Linked DNA regions of Homo sapiens: all the other regions are linked to region 1. The links come from fine-mapping of genetic effects on gene expression. A gene starts in region 1. Each other region holds a variant in brackets. All regions are shown on one strand. Distances are from middle to middle. Region 1 holds the start of MUTYH (mutY DNA glycosylase). Region 2 overlaps TESK2 (testis associated actin remodelling kinase 2). Region 3 has its middle 47 kb from the start of LINC01144.

Region 1 (8,141 bases):
CGGTCCAGGGCAATGCAGTGATGTCTGTCAAGACATTCCCCCTCCCCTAAACTCAGTAGCAGTTGAGGATGACATTTCAGGCTAGAGAGACCCAAAATACCTCTGTTCCACCTGAGAGCAAGGTGGAAGTTGCATCAGCTACTGCCCCAAGTGAGCTTCATCTTCTGATTGTGGGCTTTGGAGGAACGAGAGAACTGGCTCTTGGCCACTGTGAGGGGTACAGCTTTGCCACTCAAATATACCTTATTGTGGCATTCAGGGAGCCAGGGTCCAGAGCTGCAGGGCTGCGGTCCCTGGCTCACTTCCACATAGGCCATCACATAACCTGTCATAAAGGCATCAAAACCAGCCCGGTGCAATCCATCCCCAGGCACTGGGTTAGGACTGGCTTGGCTCCCTGGCACTTCTGAGGTAGCTCTATCAGCTATTTCAGGCCTTGCTGCCTTAATCCCCATCTCTAAGTCATTTTTGTTGCCTTGCTTGGAGTGAGGCAGGTTCCTAGTTTCATCGGCAGCCACCTCCTGCTCGGTTTCTTCAGGCTTGATGCTATCCCCACAGACCTGCTTCTTGGGAGGACCATCCTTAGCTTCCCCAGAGGTCTGTGTCCCCGGTAGGTTCAATAAAGCCCTCTTCCGTTTTTCCCTACGTCGTCGCCGTCGCCGCTTGTCCTCTGCCGCAGCCTCATCAGTGTCAATGATAAGGTCAATATCGTGAGACTGAGGACACTGTGGTCCCAGGGGGCACCAGCCATAAGCCTAGGGGTGGGAAAGAGGCTTAGAAAGAGGCTCCAGGCATCAGAACCTTCCCTCCCAAGAAACAGGTGGGTGCTCTCACCGAGAAGTTGTCACAGATGCTGGTGGGATGAGGACGGTGGGTTGCTGGGGGCAGGCAGCAGCGGTAATCAATATGGTCCCTCATGCTGGAAGGATAGTTGCAGAACTCCAGGGTAAGGTGTGGGCTGCCAGCTGCCCGCTGCTTCCCATTTTCCCGTTCACTGCAACAGCGCAAGAGGGTAATGGTCCACTAGCATATAAGCTCCATAAGAGCAGGGTTTTGTGGTCTGTTTTGTTCACTGCTGAATCCTCAGCACCTAAAACACTGCCTGGGCACATGGTAGGAGCTCAATAAATATCTTAAGTGAATGAAATAAACTCGTATCAGGCCCCACCCCTTTCCCTCAACCATTTCCTCACCATTTCCGGAAGGCATATTCTAAGTAGGAGGCCACGAAACGGGCATGAAACTCAGCAGCATATTTGGTGTCATAAATGCCTGCTGGGAACATCTCACACAGGTCAGCGGTGAAGGTTCCCAGACTCTCAGGGAGGTGTGCATAGAAGTTCTGGTACAGGAACACCAAGTCTATAAGGCCATTGTGTAGCACCAGGGGCCGGCGGGCTCGGATTAGCTCCAGGAATAGGGTCCGTACTGACTGGCTCTGGCTCTCATCACCCTAGATGAAAGTAAAGGGGTCAATGAGGAGGACAGAGTCCCCCAGGGAGCCTCTTCTGCTGGGCACTTATCCCAGACTTCCCCACTTGGAACGCTCTCTCTCTACCTTACCCAATGCTGCCCACCCTCCTCATACCAGTCTTGTTTCCCAAGCCCTGTCACTAGTGATTCCCCATACTCCCTAAGAAGCAGATTCTCCCCAGACATCCAGCCTAGGGTAGGAAGAAATAAAGTCACAGAAAGGGCAGACTCAAGGCTAGGGAGGCTAGAGGCCTACCTTGTCATTGCCCTTATGGTAGGGGATGCCTTGGGCATACTGCTGGTTGAAGTTGAAGCCATGCTGTATCAGGAACTGCACAGACTTTGGTTCTATGACATACTCCTCCATGCACAGCAGAGTGAGATTGAACACTTGAGCCAGATAGGAATGTTCACCCTGGGAGAAAGAGAAGTCTGCTATATCAAGATTTCAGAGAGCCAAGCTAGGAGGATGCAAAAGCTTAAGAATGATACAATGGACTCTGGGGACTCAGGGGGGAAAGGATGGAGGCAGGTGAGGGATAAAAGACTACGCATTGGGCACAGTGTACACTGGGTGATAGGTGCACCAAAATCTCAGAAATTGCCACTAAAGAACTTACTCATTTAACCAAACACCACCTGTTCCCCATAAACCTATTCAAATAAAAAAAAAAAAACTATCAAGTCAAAAAAAAAGATTTGGGAGAGAAATGCTTCCTATCTGATGTTCCCTAGAATCTCTCTACCCTCCACCCCACAGCCACACCTAGGATTGGGGTGAGATCAGCTCATACCTTGTCTGGCTGCCGCTTGAAGCAGGCGAGGCCCAGGGAAAGGATAGAACGGGTCCTGGCAGCATGACACACGGCCTTGTAACGTTCCTCAATGCACCTTGGGGTTGGGTATGGGGGTTGCTGTGGCTAGGAGTTAGCCTTATGAAGGACCCAAACCACCCAGGTCTGTGACCCCCCCACTCCACAGTTGAGGGCTGGCACTAAAGAGAAAAGGGCTTATACTTACTGGTTCAGCAAACTCTTCCTGTCCCCAAGCCCACTCAGCTCCTGTGGGTAGGTAAAGGGAGAGTTGTGACAGGCCTCTAGCACCAGCCCCTTCACAACCACCTGCCCTCCTTGTTTCCCAACTCTCACCGTGTCCACAGCCACGAAATTAGCTGTCTTTATGGCTAGCAGGAGGGATGGCCACATCTCCTTGAAGTTGTTGCTTTGCACATCCACTACGGGAACCTGGACTACTAGCTCCTCCCCAGATGTTGTGCTTTTGCTGACACCACCTGGGGGTTAGGAGGGTGATGGATGTTCATGCTTAAGGAAAGAGCCCAGGGGAACAGACACCAAGCTAGGCCACGGTGATGGTGGTAAGGGGGGTAGTTTCCATTGGTAGCTTTTCCCACAAGCCTTTGTAACCCACGTGTTCTACACACAGGCCTTGGAGTGGAGAATGCCCTGAATTTGGGGAGAGGAAGCCTGAGTCTTCTACTGGCTTGTATGAGCCTGGGTAAATTACTTCCCACCTCGCTTTCACAATCTGTAGAGGAGAAAGTTGGACTAGACGACCTTTGATTCTTTTTTCCCATGTCCTGCAGGAAACATTTTGTAGGGCTTGAGGATCTCAGCTCCCTTAATATCCCACAGGGATCCATACTACTGTTCTCATGGTGCCCCAGCGCCACAAGCAACAGCTCCCAGTAAGCCCCAGAGCCTGGCAGTGCCCCACACCAGAGCTCCCAATACGTCCTACCTTCCTTTGGATCACAACGCTCAATCCACTCCACTGAACTGAATCACAACTATTACTACTAACCGTTATGAGCTCCAGACTACATCTCCCGCCATGCCTCCATCAGCCCCATGCTCCCAACGCTCCAGGCTTTTGCAGCCGGAGCCGCGGTGTACAACGGAACTTGTAGTCTCCTCGTGGCTAGTTCAGGCGGAAGGAGCAGTCCTCTGAAGCTTGAGGAGCCTCTAGAACTATGAGCCCGAGGCCTTCCCCTCTCCCAGAGCGCAGAGGCTTTGAAGGCTACCTCTGGGAAGCCGCTCACCGTCGGAAGCTGCGGGAGCTGAAACTGCGCCATCGTCACTGTCGGCGGCCATGACACCGCTCGTCTCCCGCCTGAGTCGTCTGTGGGTACGCTGGACTTGCGGTCCGTCTCCTGGCGCGGTTCAGGCAGTCGGGGATGGGGCGGGGTCTCGCCGTCGGGTCGCCGATGGGTCGAACTTCCGTTCAGACGTCCCGGGTCCGGCGCGGGGAAGGCAGCCTGGCGCGCGCTAATTGCCTATTGGCCTGTGCTGCCGGCTCGCAGCCCGGGTGGACCCGAGCCACGCCCCCTGGAGTGCGCCGGAAAGCCGGGCGCGCTAGAGCTCGCGGGAGGTAATCTTTCTCTCCTGCTCTCGCGGCGGGAACGCGGGGCCTCCGTGTTCTGCTGTCTTCATCAGCGTGGGCCGCGGGTAGCGGGTAGTGGGGTGGCTGGGTTTGGGCTTTCCAGAGAAGGTGACGCTGCCTGAGCTGAGCTTAAAGCACGCCCAGGAGTTAGACTAGGAGAGGGTCGTGTGGGGGAAAGAAGGGCGTTCTGGGCATCGGTAAATTCCCAGAGAGGATGGAGAGCTCAGTGATCTCCAGAAAGTGAAAGAGGCGGGGAGTGGGCCATCGGAGGAGGCTGCCCAGGGTGTAAGAGCGACCGATTGGTAGGGAAGCTTTTGTAATAATCCAATCAAGTGATAATGTGAACTTGAATTAAGGCTGGCAGTATGGATGGCGAGGAAGGGACAAATTGTGAAGCAGCTAGGCGGTATAGTCGACCTAGAGGGTGATTGAATTTGAAAGAGGTTCCTAGGCCGGGCGCGGTGGCTCACGCCTGTAATCCCAGCACTTTGGGAGGCCGAGGCGGGCGGATTACCTGAGGTCCGGAGTTCAAAACCAGCCTGGCCAACATGGTGAAACCCCGTCTCTACTAAAAGTACAAAAAAAATTAGCTGGGTATGGTGCGGGCGCCTGTAATCCCACTACTTGGGAGGCTGAGGCAGGAGAATCGCTTGAACCTGGGAGGCAGAGGTTGCGGTGAGCCGAGATCACGCCATTTTGCACTTCAGCCTAGGCAACAAGAGCGAAACTCCGTCTCAAAAAAAAAAAAAAAAAAAAAATTCCTATTGGAGACTAGTCCCTCCGTAAACACTACGATTCCCATCCACCTCTGCCTTCCAGTGCTCCTTTGTTACTCATTGTTTATAGTTAATCTTCAGCTTCTCTCAACTGAGCCCATTTCATCATTATTCAGAACTGCTTGGGCCGGGCGCAGTGGCTTATGGCCTGTAATCATCTTAGGAGGCCAAGGTGGGAGGATCGCTTGACCCTAGGAGTTCAAGACTAGCCTGGGCAACATAGTGAAACCTTGTCTCTACAAAAAGAAAATTAAAAATTAGTTGGGCATGGTGGTGCGCACCTGTAGTCCCAGCTACAGGAGGCTGAGGTGAGAGGATGGCTTGAGCCCAGGAGGTCGAGGCTGCAGTGAGCCATGTTCTTATTGCACTCCAGCCTGAGTGGCAGAGCAGCAAAGTGAGGGACACACTGTCTCTAAAAACAAAACAAACAAACAAAAAAAAAACAAAAATAAAAAAACTCTTTGGATTTCTCCTATCCTAAAAAAGGGAAACTCTTTTGACTATCCCCCATCCCATTAATTCATTTAACAGGTATCTATTGTGTACAGTTTACCTGGCACTGACTTTGGACACACACCAATCAACAAGAGAATCAGTCCTTGCACTCAAGTCGTTTTTTACAGTCAAATTCAGGAAGTACACACTGATGGAAAGAATCAAAGTAATGTAAAATTACATTAGGTAAGAGCTACAAGGCAGAAATATGTGATAGGATAAGATGAGGGGACCTGATTTGGACATTTCAGTCAAGACTTGAAAAATGATAAGGTGTTAGGTAAAAGCATAAAAGAGTCCAAACAGAGGAAATGGATTGTGTGAGGCCCCAAGGTGGGCAGACACACTTGAGGTGTTTAAGCAACTAAATTCAGTCAACCTTGGCTAGAGCATAGTGAGGGGATGAGGCGGATGGTGCCCGGATCACTGGACCTGCAAGGCTGTAGTAAGAGGACTGCCTTCTAAGAGCAAGGGTGTGGCAGCCAAATCCCTCCAATGGCCTATAAGGTACTTTGTGACCCTCCTCTCCCCACCTCATCTGGTTTACTTCTCTGACCTCTTCTACCACTCAGTCCCATCTCATTCCATTCTAACCACATTGACCTACTTACTGTACCACAGACATACCAGGCACCCTCCTTGGGGCCTTTGCACTCACTTAGAATGCTTTGGGTCTACCTTGACCACAGTCTTTAAAATTGCAACATTAAACCCCACCTTGGCACTCTTTTTTTTCCCCTCTTGGTCTAATTTTTGCTTTTTATGCTAATATTTATCACCTAACATCTTATGGAATTTACTTATGTTCATTATTCCTTTTCTGTCCCCATTAGAATATAAGCTCCCTGAGGGCAGGAACTTTTGATGTTTTATTTACTGAAGTATGCCAAGTGCCTAAAACTGCTTGGCACATATTAGGGGGCTCTATAAATATTTGCTCAATCTTTTTTTTTCTTTAAGAGACAAGGTCTTGCTGAGCCCAGGGTGGAGTGCAGTGGCACAATCATAGCTCACTGCAGCCTCGACCTTCTGGGCTCAAGCTGTTCTTCACTTCAGCCTCCAGAGTAGCAGGATTACAGTGTTGAGCCACCACAACCAGCTTGCTCAAGAATTTAATGACCCATAGTAAAGGCCTACAGTATTTAAAAAAGAAAGAAAAAGGAAAAAAGGAAGGAAGGAAAGAGGGAGGGAGAAAAAAAGAGAAAAGAAAGAAAATAAAAGAATATAATGGGGTGTCACCAGGCGCCGTGGCTCATGCCTGTATCCCAGCACTTTGGGAGGCCGAGGCGGGTTGATTGCTTGAGCTCTGGAGGTGGAGACTAGCCTGGGCAACATGGTGAAACCCTGTCTCTAACAAAAATACAAAAATTAGCTGGATGTGGTGGTGGTGTGCGCCTGTGGTCCCAGCTGCTTGGAGTTGGGGTGGGGTATTGGGGTGGGAGGATTGCTTGAGCCGAGGAAGCAGAGGTTGCAGTGAGCCAAGATCACACCACTGCACTCCAGCCTGGGTGACAGAGTGAGACCCCATCCCAAAAAAAAAAAAAAGAATGGGAAACCATTGAAGGTTATAAGGAAGGAAGTGACGTGATCTGGAAAAGATTCCTTTGCTCTTTGGAGAATAGATTGTAGAATGAATGTGGAAGTAAGCAGGTTTGGTGAAGGAAGTTTGGCTATGAAGGGAAGGAGGGTGGGATTTGATTGTGTTACGAGCCAAGGGGAAAATCTTTCCCTTTGCCCTCTGAAGATCTGCTGAAAAATCAGCTCACAAAAGGCAGGTTAACTGGAGAAAAGGCATACAAATTTATTAACATGCACATTGGGAGAACCATAAAGTGATTACCCATCTCCCTACAGAGTTCGTGAGTTTATATACCATCTGGCAAAACAGATTATGGGAGGGGTGTCTCACGTGTGTCCATGTGAAGAGACCACCAAACAGGCTTTGTCTGAGCAACAAGGCTGTTTATTTCACCTGGGTGCAGACAGGCTGAGTCTGAAAAAAAGGAGTCAGCAAAGGGTGGTGGAATTATCATTAGTTCTTATAGGTTTTGGGATAGGCATTGGAGTTAAGAGCAATGTTTTGGGGGCAGGGGGTGGATCTCACAAAGTACATTCTCAAGGGTGGGGAGATTATAAAGAACCTTCTTAAGGGTGGGGGGGAGATTACCAAGTACATTGATCAGTTAGCGTGGGGCAGAAACAAATCACAGTGGTGGAATGTGATCAGTTAAGGCTATTTTCACTTCTTTTGTAGATCTTCAGTTGCTTCAGGCCATCTGGATGTATAAGTGCAGGTTACTGAGGATATGATGGCTTAGCTTGGGCTCAGAGGCCTGACAAGGGGTAGAAGAGAAATTCTGTTTTTCTGTTTTTGTAGAGACGGGGTCTTGCTATGTTGCAAGCCTAATCTCGAACTCCTGGGCTCAAGTAATCCTCCTGCCTTGGCCTCCCAAAGTGCTGGGATTACAGGCCTGAGCCAGCATGTCCAGCTCTATTTGTTTTTAAATAAACCGAACTTTGGCCAGAAGGAGATTCTGTTGAAGGGCAATAAAGGATTACTAGAGAGAATGGAATGGGGACAGAGGTTGACTTGTTAATAGTTCTCTTTGGAATTTGAGTGATCCTGAGGTACACAATACCTGTGAAAGGGTTTGTTCAGGTGTGGTTACATGTTAGTCTTATTGGGAGGGGAAGAAAAAACAAGTATTCTTTTTAGTGAGTTTGGACTTTAGGCAGATAAAGAGTTCCAGAGAACAACTTTATCCTGGCTTTGGGAGAGTCTGGGGTGGAAGGATCAGAGAGACCTTGCGGCTTCTTGAGTTCAGCATGTCAGAGGGCCATATTTTGGGGTATTGGTTTCTTTTCTTTTCTTTTTTTTTGAGACAGAGTCTTGCTCTGTCTTTGTTGCCCAGGCTGTGCAGTGGCATGATCTCAGCTCACTGCAAGCTCTGCCTCCTGGGTTCAAGCGAGCACGTCTGGCTAATTTTTTTGGATTTT
Region 2 (8,141 bases), 85 kb before region 1:
TGGGAGGATTGCTTGATCTCAGGAGGGGGAGGCTGCAGTGAGCTGAGGTCATGCCACTGCATTCAAACATGGGTGACAGAGTGAGACCCTGTTTAAAAAAAAATAAAAATAAAGATCATAGATTTGTCACATTTGCCTTACATTGTCAGTTTTTGTTTTCTATATTACAAGACCATGTTGTGAGATACATACAAGATCATGATTATTATCCCTTGGTAGAATATTTATGCAATGTTCACACAGTGCTTTTTTTCTTGAATCAGTTGGTCTGACTGTATCAGGCTCAATATTCTTTGCATAGTTTGTATTCAAATTGTGTCTCTGCCATTTAATAGATGTACGATCTTGAGAAAGATTTAATTTCTCTGTGCCTCAGTTTCCATGGCTGTAAAATGAGGTTATTAGTGATACTTGTCTCACAGGATTATCTTCAAGATTAAATAAGTTAATATGTATAAAGAAGTTATACAGCAGTACCTAGTATGTAGCAAATGCTGTAAATGTTAGCTATGTTATTGCTGTTTTATAACTGTGTATGATGGTTGGGGCATCTTTTTTAAACTTTTATTTTTATGGGTACATAGTAGATAATATTTATGGGGTACATGAGATATTTTGATACAGCCATACAATGTGTAATAATCACATTGGGATAAATGGGATATCCATCACCTCAAGCATTTATCATTTCTTTGTGTTGCAAACATTCCAATTATACTCTGTTATTTTAAAATATACAATTAAATTATTGTTGAGTGTAATCACCCTGTTGTACTAAATCTTCTTCATTCTATCAAGCTATATTTTTGTACCCATTAACTGCCCCCACTCCCCCACACCCCACACTACCCTTCCCAGCCTCTGTTAACCATCATCATTCTACTCTGTCTCTATGAGTTCAATTGTTTTATTTGAGCTCCCACAAATAAATGAGAACATGTGAAGTTTGTCTTTCTATGTCTGGCTTATTTAACTGAACATAATGTCCTCAAGTTCCACCCATGTTGTTGCAAATGACAGGTTCTAATCCTTTCTTATGGCTGAATAGTACTCCATTGTGTGTATGTACCACATTTTCTTTATCCATTTGTTTGTTGATGGACACTTAGGTTGCATCCAAATCTTGGCTATTGTGAATAGTGCTACAATAAACATGGAAGTGCAGATATGTATTTGACATACCGATTTCCCTTCTTTTGGTATATACCCAGCAGTGGGATTGCTGGATCATATGGTAGCTCTATTCTTAGTTTTTTGAGGAACCTCCAAACTGTTCTCCATAGTGGCTATACCAATTTACATTCCTACCAACAGTGCACGAGGCTTACCCCTTTCTCTACATCTTTGCAAGAATTCTTTTTTTTTTTTTTTTTTTTTTTTTGAGACAGAGTCTTGCTGAGGCTGAAGTGCAGTGGCGTGATCTTGGCTCACTGCAACCTCTGCCTCCCAGGTTCAAGTGATTCTCATGCCTCAGCCTCCCAAGTAGCTGGAATTACAGACGTGCACTACCATGCCCAGCTAATTTTTGTATTTTTAGTGGAGACGGGGTTTTACCATGTTGGCCAGGCTGGTCTCCAACTCCCGACCTCAGGTAATCCTCCACCTCGGCCTCTCAAAAGTGCTAGGATTACAGGCGTGAGCCACCGTGCCCAGCCTGCAAGAATTCTTTATTGCCCTTCTTTTGGATAAAAACCATTTTAACTAGGGTGAGATGATATCTCATTGTAGTTTGGATTTGCATTTCTGTGATGATCAGTGATGTTGAATACCTTTACATATACCTGTTTGCTGTTCGTATGTCTTCTTTTGAGAAATGTCTGTTCAGATCTTTTGCCCATTTAAAAAATCTGATTGTTAGATTTTTTTTTCCTATAGAGTTGTTTGAACTTCTTATATATTCTGGTTATTAATCCTTTGTCAGATGGATATTTTGCAAATATTTTCTCCCATTCCATGGATTGACTCTTCACTTTGTTTCATTTGCTGTGCAGAAGCTTTTTAACCGGATGTGATCCCATTTGTCCATTTTTGCTTTAGTTGCCTGTGCTTTTGGAGTATTACTCGAGCAATCTTTGCAGACCAATGGGAGAGTTTCCCCCGATGTTTTCTTGTAGTAGTTTCATAGTTTGAGGTCCTAGATCGAAATCTTTAATCCATTTTGATTAGATTTTTGCATATGGCTAGAGATAGGAGTCTAGTTTCATTCTTCTGCATGTAACTATACAGTTTTCCCAGCACTATTTGTTGAAGAGACTGTCCTTTCCCCAATGTATGTTCTTGGTACTTTTGTTGAAAATGAGAGTTTATTGTAGATTTATGGATTTGTTATTGGATTCTCTATTCTGTTCCATTGGTCTATGTTTCTGTTTTTATGCCAATACCATGTTATTTTGGTTACAATAGCTCTGTGGTATAATTTGAATCAGGTAATGTGATTCCTCCAGTTTCTTTCTTTTTTTCTTTTGAGACAAAGTCTCAGCTCTGTCACCTAGGCTGGAGTGCAGTGGTGCAATCTTGGCTCACTGCAACCTCTGCCTCCCGGGTTCAAGCCATTCTCCTGCTCAGCCTCCCGAGTAGCTGGGATTACAGGGGCATGCCATCACGCTCAGCTAGTTTTTGTATTTTTTTTTTTTAGTAGAGACAGGGTTTCACCATGTTGGCCAGGCTGATCTCAAACTCCTGACTTCAGGTGATCCACCCACCTCGGCCTCCCAAAGTGCTGGGATTACAGGCATAAGCTACTGCACCCGGCCCAGCTTTTTTTCTTTTCCTCAGGATGGCTTTGGCGATTCTGGGTCTTTGTGATTCCATAGAAAGTTTAGTATCTGAGTAGTATGGGAATTTTAAAAATACCGATTGTTGCAATTCATGAACATGGAATATCTTTCCATTTTTTTGTATCTTTAGTTTCTTACATCAATGTTTTATAACTTTCATTGTAGAGAACTTTTTTGTTTGTTTTTGAGACAGTCTTGCTCTGTCACCCAGGCTGGAGTATAGTGGCACGATCACAGCTCACTGCAGCCTTGACCTCCTGGGCTCAAGCAATCCTCCCACCTCAGCTTCCCGACTAGCTGGGACCACAGGCTTGAACCACCAAGCCCAGTTAATTTTTTTGTATTTTTTGTAGAGATAGTGTCTCACTATGTTGCCCAGGCTGGTCTCGAACTCCTGGACTCAAGCAATCCTTTTGTCTTGGCCTCCCAAAGTATTGGGATTACAGGCGTGAACCACTGTGCCTGGCCTTTTAGAGCTCTTTTAATTCATTGGCTAACTTAATTTCTAGGTATTTAATTTTATTTGGAGCTACTATAAATTGGATTACTTTTTGGTTTCTTTTTCAGATTGTTCACTGTTGGCATATAGAAATGCTACTGATTTTTGTATGTTGATTTTGTATGCTGTAACTTTTCTGAATTTATCAGTTCTAATAGTTTTTTTAGTGTAGTCTTAGGTTTTTCCAAATACAAGATCATAATCATCTGCAGACAAGAATAATTTGGCTTCTTCCTTTCCAATTTGGATGCCCTTTATTTCTTTCTCTTGTCTGATTGCTCTAGCTAGGGTGTCCAGTACTATGTTAAATAACAGTGGTAAAAGTGGGGATCCTTTTTGTGTTCCATATCCCAGAGGAAAGGCTTTCAGTTTTTCTTCATTAAGTATGATACTAGCTTTGGGTCTGTCATATATGGCTTTTTGAGCTATGTTCCTTCTATACCTAGTTTTTTGAGGGTTTTTATTATGAAGAGATGTTGAATTTTATCAAATGCTTTTTCAGCATTAATTGAAATGATCATATGGTTTTTGTCCCTCATTCTGTTGATATAATGTATCACATTGATTGATTTACGTATGTTGAACTATCCTTACATCCCAGGGATAAATCCCGGTTGGTCAGGATGAATGATCTTTTCATGGGTTTTGCCATTTTGTTAAAATCTTAGTGTGACAGTTTTCAGATGATGGAAAAATAAGAAGAGTGACTTTCAGCTGGAGAGTCCTTATTAAAACACAGATGTCTTCTGTAAATAGAGTTGGAAAAATACTACCAGTGAGCTCTTTGTTTATAAATGTTTCTTTTAACTTATCCATGCAGGATCTGAAATGGAAAGCTACTTCTCTTTCATCAGTC[A/G]AGAGGTACATTACAACAGAATCCTTGATGCACTGAGAAGAGAGCTGGGTTCCAAATCTCACTCAGTGATCTAGGAGAGGAGAGGCAGCCAGTGTTCTGCCTGCCTTAGTTTTTCCGATCAGGGTTCCTGTGGCTCTTTGTGTTTTGGCCCGGCCTCCCCCTCAACAGCCTTCCCTCTTCTGCCTGGCCTCTCTGAAACACTGTTTGAATTCTAAGATAAGCTGTGATGTCTGACCTGTATTAATAGCTATGATAAACTTGTGGAGCTATTGTCATTTCAAGGAGTTTTTGGATATTGAAGAGTTTAAGTAAGTTGTCATGTTTTCTTTTGGAATTCCCATTTGGTTGAGTATAGCATACTGAAATGATACTCCTGAAGTCCGTAGGATGATGACATTTTTGCATAGTAAAGTCCCTGTTGTGCAAGATATGAAATGAAATTTTTTTAACGAGAAAGATCTTTGTGACTTCATGATTTTTCTACTGCCTCATTCATAATTCCTAAGCAGGAAACACACATATCTCAGTTTAGCTTCTTTGAATCACACAAAATGTTTTGTCTGGTGGTCTTATTTTGCTACCAATGAGACCACATTTACAGGGTGAAAACAATCTTTCTCAAGTAAAGTGTTATGGTTTATGAAACCTGTGGAGTGTGCATTGAAATGATAAATAATATTTACACATGCACAATAGATTGAGTTCTATAGAGGGCGAATACTTTTAGAAGTAGACTTTCCTCTGTGCATATGGGTAATAGTGTGAGTGGTGTGGCCCATGTTTGTTGTATTTAACTTGAGTGTGTTTAAATGATTATAAGGTGCTTTGGGTAGAGTTACTACAATATTAGCTCTAAAAGGTTCACGGACTTCTTTCTATATTTAGCATGAAATTTTTTTTTTTTATAGATTTTTTTTTTTTTTTCGCGAGACGGAATCTCGCTCTGTCACCCAGGCTGGAGTGCAGTGGCACAATCTCCACTCACTGCGGGCCCCGCCTCCCAGGCTCATGCCATTCTCCTGGCTCAGCCTCCCGAGTAGCTGGGACTACAGGTGCCCGCCACCACGCCCAGCTAATTTTTTGTGTTTTTAGTAGAGACGGGATTTCACCATGTTAGCCAGGCTGGTCTCGATTTTGTGACCTCGTGATCTGTCCCCCTTGGTCTCCCAAAGTCCTGGGATTACAGGCGTGAGCCACTGTGCCCGGCCTATGGATTTTTATGGTACTTGGGGGAGACTTTGAGTATGTGGGTTTAGCATCTTATAAAGACAGTTTCATTAAGTGTTACATAAGGCTCATGCATATATCTTCGTTTTGCACACTTAGAATGCCACAGAAGGGACTCTTTTCTGTTGGTGTCTTAAGACTCACCAAGGTCAGCCATGAGGAATCAGCTTAAAAATTTTCCCTCATTTTTTTTTTCTAAGGTATTAAAAACAGGCCAGGCACGGTGGCTGGGAGGCCAAGGCTGGTGGATCACAAGGTCAGGAGTTCGAGACCAGCCTGGCCAACATGGTGAAACCCCGTCTCTACTAAAAATACAAAAATTAGCTGGGCGCGGTGGCAGGCGCTTGTAATCGCAGCTACTCGGGAGGCTTAGGCAGGAGAATTGCTTGAACCCGGAAGGTGGAGGTTTCAGTGAGCCGAGATCACGCCACTGCACTCTAGCCTGGGTGACAGAGCAAGACTCTGTCTCAAAACAAAAACAACAACAACAACAACAAAAAACCAGACATGATTGGCTGGGCATGGTGGCTCACACCTGTAATCCCAGCATTTTGGGAGGCCGAGGCAGGCAGATCACCTGAGGTCAAGAGTTTGAGACCAGCCTGGCCAACATGGTGAAAACCTGTCTCTACTAAAAATACAAAAATTAGCCGGGTGTGTTGGCACATGCCTGTAATCCCAGCTACTCAGGAGGCTGAGGCAGGAGAATCACTTGAACCTGGGAGGTGGAGGTTGCAGTGAGCCGAGATTGTGCCACTACACTCCAGTCTGGGTGACACAGTGAGACCCTGTCTCAAACAAAAACAACAACAGCAACAAACCAGACATGATTTCTTTTATTTATTTCTTCATTTTTTTCTTTATTTCTTCTAAAAAAAAGAAAACATGGGATACATGTGCAGAACATGCAGGTTTGTGCCATGGTGGTTTGCTGCACCTGTTGACTAAGTTCTAAGTTCCCTTCCTTCACCCCCCACCCGCTAACAGGCCCTGGTGCGTGTTGTTTCCCTCTCTGTGTCCATGTGTTCTCAATGTTCAAAACATGCAGTGTTGGTTTTCTGTTCCTGTGTTAATTTGCTGAGGATGATGGCTTCCAGCTTCATTTATGTCCCTGCAAAGGACATGACCTCATTCCTTTTTATGACTGCATAGTATTCCATGGTGTATATCAGACATGTTTTCTTGAGATGTTAGTAACAGTGTTTTTCTGGCCAACTCAATGTGAAATAATACTGTTCTTGGGTAGAATAATTCATCTTCATTCATGGAAGTGATACTTTAATGTAATTAGATGTATATTTTATCTAAAGTGGCACAAAAATATCTTGGCATATTGTACATTTGGAGATGTTGACCTCACATATAACTATTGCCCTTGACCCTCTTTTCTTGTTCTATTTAATATTCTAGGTACGACACCGAGCTTCTGGTCAGGTGATGGCTCTTAAGATGAACACATTGAGCAGTAACCGGGCAAACATGCTGAAAGAAGTACAGCTCATGAATAGACTCTCCCATCCCAACATCCTTAGGTAATGGCTTTTCCTTCCTTCTGATCAATGAGAAAACTGAAACATTGGAGGCTTGCTAGAATAGCACTAATAGGAAAAAAAGGAGGGATTCAGGATTTATCATGCTGAATCTATCTTGCTGGGGTTTAGTGGTACTCTAGGTCGTTTTCTACCCATTGAGACTTAATTTATTGGTAATTAACTGCATTTAATAAAGCAACTTCCTTTATCTCTTAAGTTGCTTTACTCTCATTAGAACATTAGTAGCAGCTCATTAGAACAATTGTTTTCTATTGCTGACTGGTAATTTATCAAAGAGGAGAGATTGGTCTTTATGTGGTTATTTACTTTTCCTGATTACTTTTTGGGAAATTGTAATTAAATCAATGAGTGGCAATAAATGTAAAATTACACCCTCAAGTTATCTATCCTTAACTTTTAGCACTCACTTGAGGAGACACATTTTGCCTTTGAGAATTGTTATTTTTTTGAGATAGGGTCTCACTCTGTCACCCAGGCTGGAGTATAGTGGCATGATCATGGTTCACTGCAGCCTTGACCTCCAGGGCCCAGTTGAGCTTCCCCACCTCAGACTCCTGAGCAGCTGGAACTACAGGCGCACCACCACATCCAGCTAATTTTCACATTTTTCGTAAAGTCAGAGTTCCACCATTTGCCCAGGCTGGTCTCAAGTTCCTGGGCTCAAGCAATTCACCCTCCTTGGCCTCCCAAAGTGGACAATTATTTTTATAAGTTTATGTAATTGTCACTTTTTAATAATCCGTATCTGAATCTTTCTTGCTTTAATTATTTTGATATTTTAGTCAGGCAAGTATATTTTCTTTTTAAAAAAAATTTGGCTGGGCGCGATGGCTCACGCCTGTAATCCCAGCACTTTGGGAGGCCGAGGCAGGCGGATCATGAGGTCAGGAGATTGAGACCATCCTGGCTAACATGGTGAAACCCCATCTCTACTAAAAATACAAAAAAACAGTTAGCCGGGCGTGGTGGCACGTGCCTATAGTCCCAGCCACTTGGGAGGCTGAGGCAGGAGAATTGCTTGAACCCGGGAAGTGGAGGTTCCCCCTGGGAACCTAGTGCAGTGAGCTGAGATTGCACTACTGCACTCCAGCCAGGGTGACAGAGCAAGACTCCGTCTCAAAAAAAAAAAAAAAAAAAAATTTTATTTGGCCAGGCATGATGGCTCATGCCTGTAATCTCAGTACTTTGGGAGGCCAAGGTGGGTGGATCTCTTGAGCCTAGGAGTTTAA
Region 3 (8,141 bases), 83 kb after region 1:
CTCTCCTGACTTCAACAATGGTTCTTGTCTTTCCTCCTTTCTCTGACTGCCTTGTAAATGTTGGTTTTCCTCAGGGGCCATTCTCTCTACACAGCTTTTCTCACTCTACACCACAGGGAGAAATATTTTTTGCCTAAAAGCGAACTCAAGGAAAACAGAAATGTTTACTGGGTGCAGCTGTTTAATTATGCTTTTAATTTCAGAATAGTTTCAAATGTAAACAAAAGTTGTGAAGATAGGGCAGAGAATTCTCACATACCCCTCACTCAGTTTCCCCTATTGTTAACATCCTATATTACCATGGGACATATATCACAACTAAGAAATCAACATTGGTACGTGACTATAAATTAAACACTTTATTAGCATTTCACCAGTTTTCCCCCCAAAGTCCATTTGCTGTTTGAGGATCCTCTTCAGGACACCACATTACATTCTGTCATCATGTCTCCCTAGCTTCTTCTGGTCTGTGATAGTTTCTCATACTTTGTTGTCCTTGATGACTTTGACAGTTTTGAGAAGCACTGGCCAGGGTTTGTTTGTTTTTGCAAATGTCCGTATTTGTCCAGTGTTTTTCTCATGGTTAGACTGGGGTCATAGGTTTTGGAAAAAATCACAGAGGTGAAATACCATTCTCATCCCATCATATTGTTACTGAACCAGGCTTCTTCTTCCTGTCATGCAGTATGTCAATCACTGAGATGATGTGTTTTGCTGCAGAGGAAGAGTTTATTCATGAGGCAGCCAAACAAGGATATGGGAAAACAGGTCTCAAATCTGCCTCCCTGAAGATGGAATTTTAGGGATATTTATAGAATAGAGGAGCAAGATGGTCCAAAGCATGGGGAAAGGTGATCGTGGTAAGGAAAACTGAGGTAATTGGTCATCTGTGCAAGCATAACAGACTTCATGGCTCTTCATAGAATATATGTTCAGAAAATTACAGCATTAGCATGATCTGAGGGTGGAGTTTTTGGCCCTCTGACATCAAAAGGTGACCCATCAGATGCTCACACAGGCCCAGTTGAAAGGTTGGTGGTCTCAGCTGGCTTGAACTGGACAAGAACTGACTCTCTAAGTTCCTGAAAAACAACTTAAGCAACCATTACCATGGTGATCTATACATCAGAAATGTTATCTACAAGAAAGCTAGTGGAAATTTAGTTATATATTACTTAGCAATGTGACTTTTAGCTATATAGGTTTTAAAATCAACTAAAAGCAAATTAATAAAGACAAGTAAGGTAAGTTAAATTTGGTGGGCCTAATTGGGTTTGTCCTCAGTTTCAATATCAAGGGTACATTGCCATTAACATGAGGTATTAGTCTTCTCTCACACTGCTATGAAGAAATACCAGAGACTGGGTAATTTATAAAGAAATGAGGTTTAATTGGCTGATGGTTCTGCAGACTGTATAGGAAGCATGGCAGCTTCTGGAGAGGCCTCAGGAAACTTATAATCATGGTGGAAGGTGAAGGTGAAGCAAGGCATCTCACATGGCCAGACCAAGAGGAAGAGAGAGAGGGGGAAGGTGCTACACACTTTTAAACAACCAGATCTCATGAGATCTCACTCACTATCATGAGAACAGCAACCAGGGGGATGGTATTAAGCCATCCATGAGAAACACTCTCATGATTCAATTACCTTCCACCAGGCCCCACCTCCAACATTGCGGATTACAATTTGACATGAGAGTTGGACAGGAACACAGATCCAAACCATATCATTCTACCCCCAGCCCCTCCCAAATCTCATGTCATTTTCACATTTCAAGGTACAACCATGCGTTCCAACAGTCCCCCAAAATTTTAACTTATTCTAGCATTAACCCAAAAGTCCAAAGTCCAAAGTCCAAAGTCTCATCTGAAACGGGAAGTCCCTTCCACCTATGAGTCCGTAAAATCAAAAACAAGTTAGTTACTTCCAGAGACAGTGGGGGTATAGCTGTTGTGTAAATCAAGCTTGTCCAACTCATGGCCCATGGGCCACATGCAGCCCAGGACAGCTTTGGACATGGCTCAACACAAGTTTCTTAAAACACTATGAGATATGTTTTGCAATTTTTTTTTAGCTTATCAGCTCTCGTTAGTGTTAGTGTATTTTATATGTGGACCAAGACTATTCTTCTTCCACTGTGGCTCAGGGAAGCCAAAAGATTGAACACCCCTGGGGTAAATACTCCTATTTCAAAAAGGAGAAATCAGCCAAAAGAAAGGGGCTACAGGCACCATGCAAGTCCAAAACCCAGCAGGGCAACCATTAAATCTTAAAGCTCAAAAATAATCTCCTTCGAATTCATGTCTCACATCCAGGGCACTCTGATGCAAGGGAAGGGGCTCCCAAGGCCTTGGGAAGCTCTGCTCCTGTGGCTTTGCTGGTTCAGCCCCCAGAACAACTGCTCTCAGGGGCTGGCATTGAGTGCCTATGGCTTTCCAGGCACAGGGTGCAAGCTGCCAGTGGATCTTCCATTCCAGGGTCTGGAGGATGATAACCCTCTTCTCACAGCTCCACTAGGCAGTGCCTCAGTGGGGACTCTGTGTGTGGGGTCCAACCTCATATTTTCCCTCTGCATCACCCTAGAAGAGGTTCATCATGAGGGCTCCACTCCTGCAGCAGGCTTCTGCCTGGACATACAGGGTTTTCCATACATCCTCTGAAATCTAGGCGGAGGCTCCCAAGCCTCAACTTGTGTACTCTGTGCACCTGTAGGCTTAACACCATGTGCAAACTGTCAAGGCTTATTACTTGCACTCTCTGAAGCAGTGGCCCAAGCTGTACTTGGGCCCTTTTTAGCCACAGCTAGAGTTAGAGTGGCTGGCACACAGGCAGCAGTGTCCCAAGGCTGTCCTGTGCCTGGCCCACAAACCATTTTGTCCTCCTAGACCTCCAGGCCTGTGATGGGAGGGGATGCCTTGAAGGTCTCTGAAATGCCTTTGAAGCTCTTCCCCCATTGTCTTGGATATTATCACTTTGCTCCTCTTTACTTATGAAAATTTCTGCAGCCTGCTTGAATTCCTTTCCTGAAAATGGGCCTTTCTTTTCTACCACATGGCCAGGCTGCAAATGTTCCAAATTTTAATGCTCTGCTTCCCCTTTAAATATAAGTTTTAGTTTCAGGTCATTTCTTTGTTCATACATATGAGCTATAGGTTGTTAGAAGCAGCCAGGCCACGTCTCAAACACTTTTCTGCTTAGAACTTTCTTCCACCAGATACCCTAAATCATCTCTTTCAAGTTCAAAATTCCATAGATCCCTAGGGCAGGGGCACAATCCAACCAAGCTCTTTGCTAAAGCATAGCAAAAGTGACCTTTGCTCCAGTTCACGATAAGTTCCATATTTCCATCTGAGACCTCCTCAGCCTGTCCAATATCTGTCCATGTCACTATCAGCATTTTGGTCACAACTATTCAACAAGTCTCTAGAACGTTCCAAATTTTCCCTCATCATCTTTTCTTCTTCTGAACCCTCCACACTCTTCCAACCTCTGCCCATTACCCAATTCCAAAGTTGCTTCCACATTTTCAGGTGTCTTTATAGCAATGCCCCACTCCTCAATACCAACTTTCTGTATTAGTCTATTCTTGCACAGCTATAAAGAAATACCTGAGACTGGGTAATTTATAAAGAAAAGAGGTTTAATTGGCTCATTGTTCTGCAGGCTGTACAGGAAGCATAGCAGCTTCTTGGGAGACCTCAGAAAGCTTCCAATTATGGTGGATGGTGAAGGGAGAGCAAGCATGTCACATGGTGAAAGCAGGAGCAAGAAAGAGAGGGGAAGGAGGTGCCACACACTTTTAAATGACCAGGTGTCACAAGAACTCACTTACTATGGTGAGGACAGCACCAAAATGATGGTGCCAAACCACTCACAAGAAGTTCACCCCCATCATATAATCACCTCCCACCAGGCACCACCTCCAACATTGGGGATTACAATTCAACATGAGACTTGGGCCGGGACACAGATCCAAACCATATCACATGACCTGTCAGTGATGATGTTAACCTTGATAACCAAGCTGAGTTAGTATTTGACAGGTTTCCTTACTATATAGTTGTCCTCCACCTCTCCTCTCTTGTTGCATTTAAAAATTTTTAAATGGAATAAAAAATGAAATGGAAAACTAAATGAAGCTTTATTAAATACCATGGGGGAGTGTGCAGGTGCAGTGGCTCATGCCTGTAATCCCAGCACTTTGGGACACCAAGGCAGGTGGATCACTCGAGCTCAGGAGTTTAATCCCAGCCTGGGCAACATGGCAAAACCCTGTCTCTATAAAAACAAAAATTAACTAGGTGCAGTGGTGGGTGCCTGTAGTCCCAGA[T/C]ACTTGGGAGGCTGAGGTGAAAGGATCACTTGAGCCTGGGAGGCAGAGGTTGCAGTGAGCCAAGATCATGCCACTGCACTCCAGCCTGGGTGATAGGAGTGAAACCCTATACCCCCCACCCCCGCCAAAAAAAAATACCATGGGAAGAAATTATATTATTGGAACGTAGGTTATTCACTATTCACCAGAAGTTTGTCCTAGAGAAATTGGCATTACTTTTTAATCCATTAATATTTTAGAGTCTGGGTATATTTGGCCTTATCACTTCCCTTGGTTTTAACTACCATCTATAAGTTGATGACTCACAAATCTTCCCAGGTCCTGATCACTCCCTGCATCTGAAACCACCCTTGCAGAATTATAAGTAATGAGAGATAAATCTTTTTTTTTTTTTTTTTTTTTTTTTGAGACAGGGTCTTGTTCTGTTACCCAGGTTGGAGTGCAGTGGTGTAATCTTGGTTCACTGTGACCTCTGCCTACTGTGTTCAAGCAATTCTCCTGCCTCAGTGTCCTGAGTAGATGGGATTACAGTTGCACACCACCGTGCTCAGCTAATTTTTGTATTTTTTTTTAAGTAGAGACAGTGTTTCGCCATGTTGGCCAGGCTGATCTCAAACTCCTGACCTCAAGTGATCCGCCTGCCTCAGCTTCCCAAAGTGCTGGGATTACAGGCGTGAACTACCATGTCAGGCCAGTAATGAGAGAGAAATCTAACATGACTAATTGCATCTTGCTTCTAATCTCACAGGCTAAATTGCTTTTTTGCTTATTCTGGTATAGAGGCCAAGATAACTGTGAAAGGAATTTAGTTTATAGCTAAACTTTGAGGTAAGGAAAACTGACCCCCTTCCATGTTTGGAGATTGAAGATGCTTTCATAAAACAAGATTAGAATCATGGTAGGGACTTGAACTTTGCTATAGAATAGGCATAAACAATCACCTGTCATTGTTTAACTTTCTTTTCTTTTTTGAGATGGAATTTTGCTCTTGTTGTCCAGGCTGTAGTCCTGTGGCACAGTCTCGGCTCACTGCAACCTCCGCCTCCCTGGTTCAAGAGATTCTCCTGCCTCAGCCTCCCAAGTAGCTGGGATTATAGGTATGCGCCACCACACCCGGCTAATTTTGTGTTTTTAGTAGAGATGGAGTTTTACCATGTTGGCTAGGCTGGTCTCAAACTCCTGACCTCAGGTGATCCACCCACCTCAGCCTCCCGAAGTGCTGGGATTACAAGTGTGAGCCACTGTACCCAGCCAAGCTTGCTTTTCTATAAGCTGCTTTTGCTATCCCAGAGTCATGTAACTGGGGGTCACAAGATTTGTAACTTTCCCAACTATTCAAATGAATTAACATCACTATTGTAAAACCTAAAGAACTAGTCTTTGAGATATTTTTCAGATTTAGCATTTTGGCAACACAAGAGATGCTACCTGGTCCTTAGATGCCCCCCTCCCTGGAACTGATTAGACTGTGCAAAGACAATTTAAACACTCTTGTGACTTTATCCCCAGCCAATCGATAGTTTCAGTTCCCTAGACCCCTGTCTGCCAAAATGCCCTTAACACCCTAGCCTCCAAATTGTTGGGGACATGAATTTGAGAAATGCCTCCTGTCCTGCTTGGCTGGTCCTGTGATATTAAACTCTTTCTTTTCAGCATTATCTGCTGTTCTCAGTGCAGCAGGCAAGAGCCCATCAGGCTGTGACAGGTTGGCTACTTAATGTATTCAAACTCCTATAAAATGTTTCCCCTGTGATGTTTCAGAGACACTTCAAATTCAATGTACCCTAAGCTGAACTTTTTGTGTCCCCTCCATCAATCCCTGCATGACCCACATCTTCTCCTCCAGTGTTCTCTAGCTAAGTGAATCAAACCAAATCTATCCATTTACCTAAGCCAAAAACCCACCCTCCACCTCAAAACCTGAGTGATCTTTCTAAAACATAAAGTCTGTCTATATCACCACTGCCATGTCTATAATATTAAATCCTCTCTCAAGACTTCTATTTCCCTCTTTGGTTTCAACTTTTACCATTCCCAGACTTGTTCTCTACCCTCATGAGTGCCAAATGACCTTTGGTTCATTGAGCATACCCTGTGGTTTATGCCTCTGTATCTTTGTTCAGGCTATTACCTTGTCTGGAAGAGTTCCCTCTTCCAACTCTGTCTGCCCACTATCTTCTTATCCTTCAAGATTCAGCCCAGCATTTTATCTTTGTAAACTTCAAAACATCTAGCCCCATTCAGTCTTCCTCACTAGATTGTAAGTTCCTGAGGGTAGGGACCATATACGGTTCATCTGTTTGTTTGTTTGTTTTTGAGATGTAGTCTCACCCTGTCGCCTAGGCTAGAGTGCAATGGCATGATCTCGGCTCACTGCAACCTCCGCCTCCTGGGTTCAAGTGATTCTCCTGCCCCAGCCTCCCGAGTAGCTGGGACTACAGGCATGAGCCACCATGCCTGGTTAATTTTTGGATTTTTGGTAGAGACGGGGTTTCACTATGTTGGCCAGGCTGGTCTCAAACTCCTGACCTCAGGTGATCCACCACCTCGGCCTCCCAAAGTGCATAAGCCACTGCACCCGGCCTATGGTTCATCTCTGTAGCCCGCCATCCCCACCCACCCTGCTCAATATAGTACCTGCCAGTCAGACTGAAGTCGCAGTCACTCAGGAAATGTTTGGGACCAAGCTGATTTCCACTGTGCTCCTCTGACACTTAAAGCGGTTATTACATTTTATTATTATTATTAATCAAAATGCCTGGCACCTCACCAAGGAAGTGAGCTCCAGGAAGACAGAGTCTTGAGTCTTATTAATGCTACAGGACCAGTGTTTGGAACACAATAGGAGCTAAGTGAGTATTTCTTGGATGAATGATCAGAGCAGGAACTGTTAAAATTGAATTGCTTTTTTCATGACTCTTCAACCAAACATTGGCCAAACCATCCTGAGGGAAGTTTGGTCTCCTTTGTCAATCTACTTAAGAAAAAAAGAAATACATAGCTGAAAATGATGTAAAAATGGCTAAATTGGTAATGTGAGCATCACTAGGTGAAAAGTTTCAAAGCTAGGTTATTTCTCATAAATGGAACATTACAAAATAGGCATCAACTGGCCGGATGCGGTGGCTCACGCCTGTAATCCCAGCACTTTGGGAGGCCGAGGTGGGTGGATCACAAGGTCAGGGGTTCGAGACCAGCCTGACCAACATGGTGAAACCCCATCTCTACTAAAAATACAAAAATTAGCTGGGTGTGGTGGTGGGTGCCTGTAATCCCAGCTACTCAGGAGGCTGAGGCAGGAGAATTGCTTGAACCCGGGAGGCGGAGGTTGCAGTGAGCTGAGATCGCGCCACTGCACTCCAGCCTGGGTGACAGAGCAAGACTCGGTTTCAAAAAAAAAAAAAAGGCATTAATTTTCCTTAGCCAGGTACAGTAATATGCAATTAAATAGTTTTAATCTCATGCCTAAAGCATTGCTGTTTAGAAAAGTAAGACAGGTAATTGTAAAGTTTCAAAATCCAGCAAGTAAAATCAGGAACACTCCCAGAATTGAGTCTAGAGGAGACTGAGAGTCAGAAGAGAGTCTGGCAATTAGGAGAAAAAGGAAGCAGTAGTTTGACATTGGAAAGTGCCTGGCATGTAAGAGAAGAATCTGGCAAGGGAGGGACAGGTGACTAATCAATTACCACAGATTCAGTCTGCCATTGTCTGGGCTTTGGAAATAAGTTGATGAGGTTTGGATTTAATAAACATTAAAATTCTAAGAACACTTAAGAACTGCCCAGGGAGGCTGTGGAGCGATCATCATAT

What was found. PIP is the estimated chance that this variant, and not a neighbour inherited with it, causes the effect.
Region 2: its variant is the best candidate, but not a certain one, in a credible set for the expression of MUTYH in T cells (TOPMed, PIP 0.74).
Region 3: its variant is the best candidate, but not a certain one, in a credible set for the expression of MUTYH in whole blood (TOPMed, PIP 0.85).

What each region holds. Positions count from the first base shown.
Region 1 is chr1:45,335,696-45,343,836 of GRCh38, reverse strand. MUTYH (mutY DNA glycosylase) reads left to right here and starts at 3,867. Exons shown (of 16, transcript NM_001048174.2): 1 at 3,867-3,938. It overlaps TOE1 (target of EGR1, exonuclease), which reads right to left and starts at 3,667. Exons shown (of 8, transcript NM_025077.4): 1 at 3,533-3,667; 2 at 2,622-2,764; 3 at 2,494-2,534; 4 at 2,268-2,364; 5 at 1,730-1,888; 6 at 1,194-1,453; 7 at 835-994; 8 at 1-755. The coding sequence starts at 3,584. The coding sequence ends at 135. RefSeq lists enhancers at 2,342-3,008, 3,307-3,656, 3,009-3,677, 3,678-4,345.
Region 2 is chr1:45,420,475-45,428,615 of GRCh38, reverse strand. It overlaps TESK2 (testis associated actin remodelling kinase 2), which reads left to right. Exons shown (of 11, transcript NM_007170.3): 3 at 6,770-6,891. Among named protein-coding and RNA genes, the nearest start is that of TESK2, 67 kb to the left of the region's middle. The variant A/G (reference allele first, on the strand shown) is at 4,133.
Region 3 is chr1:45,252,965-45,261,105 of GRCh38, reverse strand. No RefSeq gene overlaps it. Among named protein-coding and RNA genes, the nearest start is that of LINC01144, 47 kb to the left of the region's middle. The variant T/C (reference allele first, on the strand shown) is at 4,332.